2 separate regions of the Homo sapiens genome follow, and region 2 is linked to region 1. The links come from fine-mapping of genetic effects on gene expression. Tissue or cell type: subcutaneous fat. Region 1 holds a variant in brackets; the other region holds the start of a gene. All regions are shown on one strand. Distances are from middle to middle.

What was found. PIP is the estimated chance that this variant, and not a neighbour inherited with it, causes the effect.
Region 2: it holds the start of CSNK1A1, and the variant in region 1 is fine-mapped to the expression of CSNK1A1 in subcutaneous fat (GTEx, PIP 0.97).

Annotation. Positions count from the first base shown.
Region 1 is chr5:149,480,213-149,482,895 of GRCh38, forward strand. No RefSeq gene overlaps it. Among named protein-coding and RNA genes, the nearest start is that of MIR145, 51 kb to the left of the region's middle. The variant C/T (reference allele first, on the strand shown) is at 1,523.
Region 2 is chr5:149,550,242-149,552,924 of GRCh38, forward strand. CSNK1A1 (casein kinase 1 alpha 1) reads right to left here and starts at 1,198. Exons shown (of 10, transcript NM_001892.6): 1 at 601-1,198. The coding sequence starts at 723. It also overlaps a transcript of ARHGEF37 not described here. RefSeq lists enhancers at 1-459, 706-765, 896-955, 986-1,655, 1,355-2,148 and 1 more.

The DNA.
Region 1 (2,683 bases):
AGCCTAGGCAACAGAGTGAGATTCTGTCTTGAATAAACAAATAAATAATAAATAAATAAACAAAGAAAGGAGGTAATACTGTGGATATCTTTGATTGACCTCTCTTGGGATATAATTAAAAACAGAAATTTCAAATTTGAGTTCAAATGGTGCTCAGAAAAGTACAACCCCCTACAGAAACCCTCCAACCACAAGTTTTGCAACTACTTAAAGTTATGATTTAAAAAACTAGATGTCAGGCGCGGTGGCTCATGCCTGTAATCCCAGCACTTTGGGAGGCCGAGGCAGGCGGATCACGAGGTCAGGAGATTGATTGAGACCATCCTGGCTGACACAGTGAAACCCCGTCTCTACTAAAAAATACAAAACAAAATTATCTGGGCATGGTGGCGGGTGCCTGTAGTCCCAGCTACAGGAGAATGTCGTGAACCTGGGAGGTGGAGCTTGCAGTGAGCCGAGATCGCGCCACTGCACTCCAGCCTGGGCAACAGAGCGAGACTCTGTCTCAAAAATCACAAAAAAAACCCCAAAAAACTAGATGTCAAAAATTAGCCGGGCATGGTGGCACATGCCTGTAATCCCAGCTACTAGGGAGGCTGAGGCAGGAGAATTGATTGAACGTGGGAGGCAGAGGTTGCAGTGAGCCAAGATCACGCCACTGCACTCTGGCCTGGCTGACAGAGTGAGACTCCATCTCAAAAAATAAAAATAAATAAATAATTAAAAACTAGATGTTAACTTAAAAGTGTGCAAATAGATACACTATTTTCAAATTTCTTTTAGGGACATGTGAACAGAAGTGTTTGAAAAGTCTAAACCAGCAGTGACAGCAAACAAGATGACCATCCACATTTCACTTTTCTCAAAAGACTCTTAATTTCCAACCCCTTATTTTGGGAGAACTGAAAACCATTTTCGCCCTGCTTTCTGATCTAAATCCCAATTAACATGAGAAATATTAAGACAATAGGGTTAAGAGTGAAGAAATCTGGAGGGCACAGCGGCCGACACCTGAAATCCCAGCATATTGGGAGGCCGAGGCAGGGGAAGATGGCTGAGCCCAGGTGTTTGAGATCAGGCAGGGCAACATAGGGAGACCTCTGTCTCTACATTAAAAAAAAAATAATAAAAATTTTAAAAACCAGCCAGGCATGGGGGTGCACACCTGTAGTCCCAGCTACTTGGGAGGCTGAGGTGGGAAGATTAACTTGAGCCCAGGATGTCAAGGCTGCAGTGAGCTGTGATTATGCTACTGCACTCCAGCCTGGGCAACAAAGTGAGACCCTGTCTCTTAGGGAAAAAAAAGGGTGAAGAAACCACTAAATTGTTTTATGGCCTTAATGCAGTCAGTTCCGCCTTTCTGAGCCAGTGTCCTCAATAGCAGAGTGTTGAAGCATATTTTAAAATGTACATTTAAAAGATGCAGTCTTGTCCTAATGTTTTATGATCTTGAATGTCCCTTCCAGGAATAACATTTTTAGACTCTTTGCTATTTTTCAATGCCAAAATCTTGTGTCCTCCA[C/T]GCTTCTCTCACCCCCAGCTATGTCCCCCTGGAGAGAAATGAACACATCTTTGGGTGAAACACACGCTCAGTTTATGACCTATGCCTATAGATTTACAAGTTCTTTTCTGGTTGGAAGTCACCTCACCGCCCCCACCTGCACACCCCAAGGTTGTCTTAGCTATAGCTAAGCTGCCTTCCCCCATGAGTCTATCACTAAAAAAAATAGTCACTAAGCATCTGCAACTCATGTGCCCTTCCTCAAGCATTAGGAGTAAAGATGAATGAAGTCCGGCCTTGGGGAGCTTTGTCTGGTCAGAAGGAAACACGTTTGAGTAATTGCAGAAATACAATTGCAAAATCTGGCTAGGAAAGCGCGGCAGTGAAGGCGCAGAGGAGGCACAGACCAGCTTTTCTCGTGGTGTGGGAAACTTCCCAGAGACGTTTGAATTGGCTTTTGAACAAAGAGGCAGATTGGAGAAAGTGGAAGGCATTTCTAGCACAGAGAAACATATGAAGGCAAGATGGCACAATGAATCCTGGGAATTGCGAGTGTATCTGGAGCGTACTGTGTGGGATGGAAATTGGGGCTGGGAATAGAAGCCAAGAGATAAATTTGGATAGCTTGGTAAACAGGGAACAGATCACGGAATTTGGTCATTATCCTGAAAGCAGTGGGGGTGGGAAGGGGCACATTCAAGAATCATATGGAGAATGAAGCTTAGATAAGAGCTACTTCAAGTGTTCAGGCAGCCAGGCGCAGTGGCTCACGCCTGTAATCCCAGCACTTTGGGAGGCCAAAATGACCAGATCACCTGAGGTCAGGAGTTCAAGACCAGCCTGGGCAACATGGCAAAACCCCATCTCTACTAAAAATACAAAAATTAGCCGGGCATGGTGGTGGGCACCTGTAATCCCAGCTACTCGGGAGGCTGAGGCAGGAGAATCACTTGAACCCGGGAGGCAGAGGTTGCAGTGAGCCGAGATGATGCCACTGTATTCCAGCCTGGGTGGCGAATGAGACTCTGTTTCAAACAAACAAAAAAAAGAGTTCAGGTAAGCGATAGTAAAGGGCAAATTCAAGGAAACAGTGAGATGGACTTGATAGAGGAGTCAAGGGTGGCTCCCAGGTGTCCTGCTCGTCCATGCATAGAAGGAAGGGCAGGTTTAGAGAGGCAAGAT
Region 2 (2,683 bases), 70 kb after region 1:
AAGGAGGGAGACATTAGCAAAACTCCAAGTCGCGACTACAAGAAGAAGTGAAAAGCTGGAAAGAGAAAGCTCTCGGTAATTATAAAACGAGGCAACCAGCCTCAAAGGCCTCTTCAGGGGGTAGTGACGAAATCCGTACGTCCTCTAAAGTGCAGGAAAATGATTCATCCAGAAAAAAGAGGCAACCTCTGAACGTAGTGAGAGGTTTTTAAGGAACTAGGCGATCGGAAACTGTTCTAATTGGAACAAGAGGCCCAGTAGAATTAAGAATTAAAAAAAAAAAAACATGGGAATCACTGAAAGAGGATTTTGCCGTTTCCACCTTAAAAGACGGTTAAAAAAAAAAAAAGCTCGACTAAGGGACATTTATGGGACGTGTTTAACAAGGTGGGAAACTAGTTCCCCCAACCTTTCTATCGGGTTCTTGACCCTTTTAGGGAGACAGCGGACGAGGTTCGTAAGCCAGGAAAACTAGCTCCCTGGACTCCCTGGCGAGTGCGTGCGATGAGGAGAGGCCCGAGCACTTTGGGGGTGCACGGTGGTGGTGGGGGGAATGAGTAAAAGCGCAGCGTTATCGTGAACCCCACCCCAGATGATTACCTCGCCGTTGGTGATGTTGATCGCCAAATAGATGTCCCCGAAGGAGCCAGACCCGATCTTCCGTACCAGTTTATATTTCCCTCCGACAATGAATTCAGCCTTGGAGCCGCTGCTACTCGCCATCCTGAGAGACGAAGATGGAGGCTGGGGCCAAGCCCCGACACCTCTGGGAAGAGGACGGAGGCCTCGGGGCTCCTACACTAGGCAAGGCTACGGAGGAGGGCGGCAGGAAACGGAACACGGAGGCCTTTACCGGGGTTCGGGGCCCAGAATCAGCAGAGGGGAACCTGATCACCGCCGCTCAGTCAGGTTTCTTTTTGCCAGGCCGCAGTTTGTGAAGGGCTTCTCGGCGGTTACCAGGCTGGGCCACTTGTTTCTCGGCGGCCGCCGCTGCCTCGCTTGCGCGGCGACGTCGCGGGCTGGAAAAGGGGCGCGGTGAGCTAGGGCGGCGATACCGCTGCCACCACTGCCGCCGGCTCCGGCCCAGAGGGACCCCTGTCACTCCGCGGACGACGCCATCTTGTTACTCCAGCTCCAGCCAACACAAAATGCCCCCAGTCCCCGGGAGCCGCTTCTTCACGGCGCAGAGCACTCTGGGAAAGGGATCTCGGGCGCTCGCTCCGAAGGATCGGCAGCGAGAGGGCGGAACCGGATCCGTGAGAGTCGCGGCCCACGCTCCGAGCGTCACCCTGTCACCGCCCAGCTGCGCATGAGCGCTGCAACTCCTGCTGACTGCGCAGGCGTGCCGCGGCCTGTCCTCACCCCCGTCCCGGGCTCTCTTCCACTTCCGGTCGGCGGCGGCTCAGCAGGTGTTACCTGTTACTCGCCTCGGACCCGCCGGGTCTCTGGAAGGCTGAGTGGCCCCCCGGCCTTGATATTGGGAGGAGTCACCTTCATGTTTCGTGGCAGATGAAAGCTTAAGGCCTCCTTAGGAGTTGGGTATTGACCTGTGCTCTTTGAGGCGGTTTTTAACCTTTGATCTTTCTTCTGGCCGTTCCCCCGGACCGGCCTATTCCAACCCAGTTTCTGTTTGGAAAGAGGCTGTCGCCTCTGGTGGAGAGGAAGAGAAAAGCAGCCAGCGTCGAGGAATCTCTCAGGGCTCTCGGTTGTAGCAGAGCCTAGCTAATTACCCTTCATAATTAGAATTGTCCTATCTACTACGGAGTGTTATAGACCCTCTTTCCACAGGAGGGGAAGAAAGAAAGAAGCCGGAATCCCCCTGCCATCCTATGTCTTTGCATTATTGCCTCACTACCACATATGATCTTCAGAAGAAAACCTGGTATGTTGCTCATAATGAAGATTAAGGATAGATGGAATCAACAGAAAATTAATTTAACAAGAGTGAAAAAACTGTTATGTCCCCTCAACCCCACCAAAAAAAAAAAAAAAAAAAAAAAAAAGAATCGTATGTTGGTCTTGTTGAAAACCTCAGTATTAACCTGAACAGAGTAGAGGTAACTATTACAAAATTTAATTGACAACATTTAAAACTACACGGTAATTTTTTTCTTTTTTACAAAAAATCGATCAGAGAATCAAATTTTGACCACGTTTTGTTTTACAAAATTTGACCTGGGAAAATTGGGCTTAGTAATAATAATGTTCACGAAAGAAAACTCCATGGTTGATGCTATCATCTTAAGTCAGACCTCAGTCGTAAAAATTTAAGCTAAGCCTATCCTAAATAAAATTTAATTAAAATAGAAATGGGGGGCGGGCGCAGTGGCTCACGCCTGTAATCCCAGCACTTCGGGAGGCCGGGGCGGGCAGATCACTTGAGGTCAGTTGTTCGAGACCAGCCTGGCCAACATGATGAAACCCCGTATCTACTAAAAATACAAAAATTAGCCGGGTGTGATGGCGCACACTTGTAACCCCAGCTATTCGGGAGTCTGAGAATCGCTTGAACCCGGGAGGCGGAGGTTGCGGTGAGACTAGATCACGCCACTGTACTCCAGCCTGGGCAACAGAGAGACCCTGTCTCAAAAAAAAAATAATTAATTAAATAGAAATGGGAGAAAAATGTGAAGAATTTTAACTGCAACTTTGAAAGGTGGTCAAGTAATTAGTAATAGGGTTC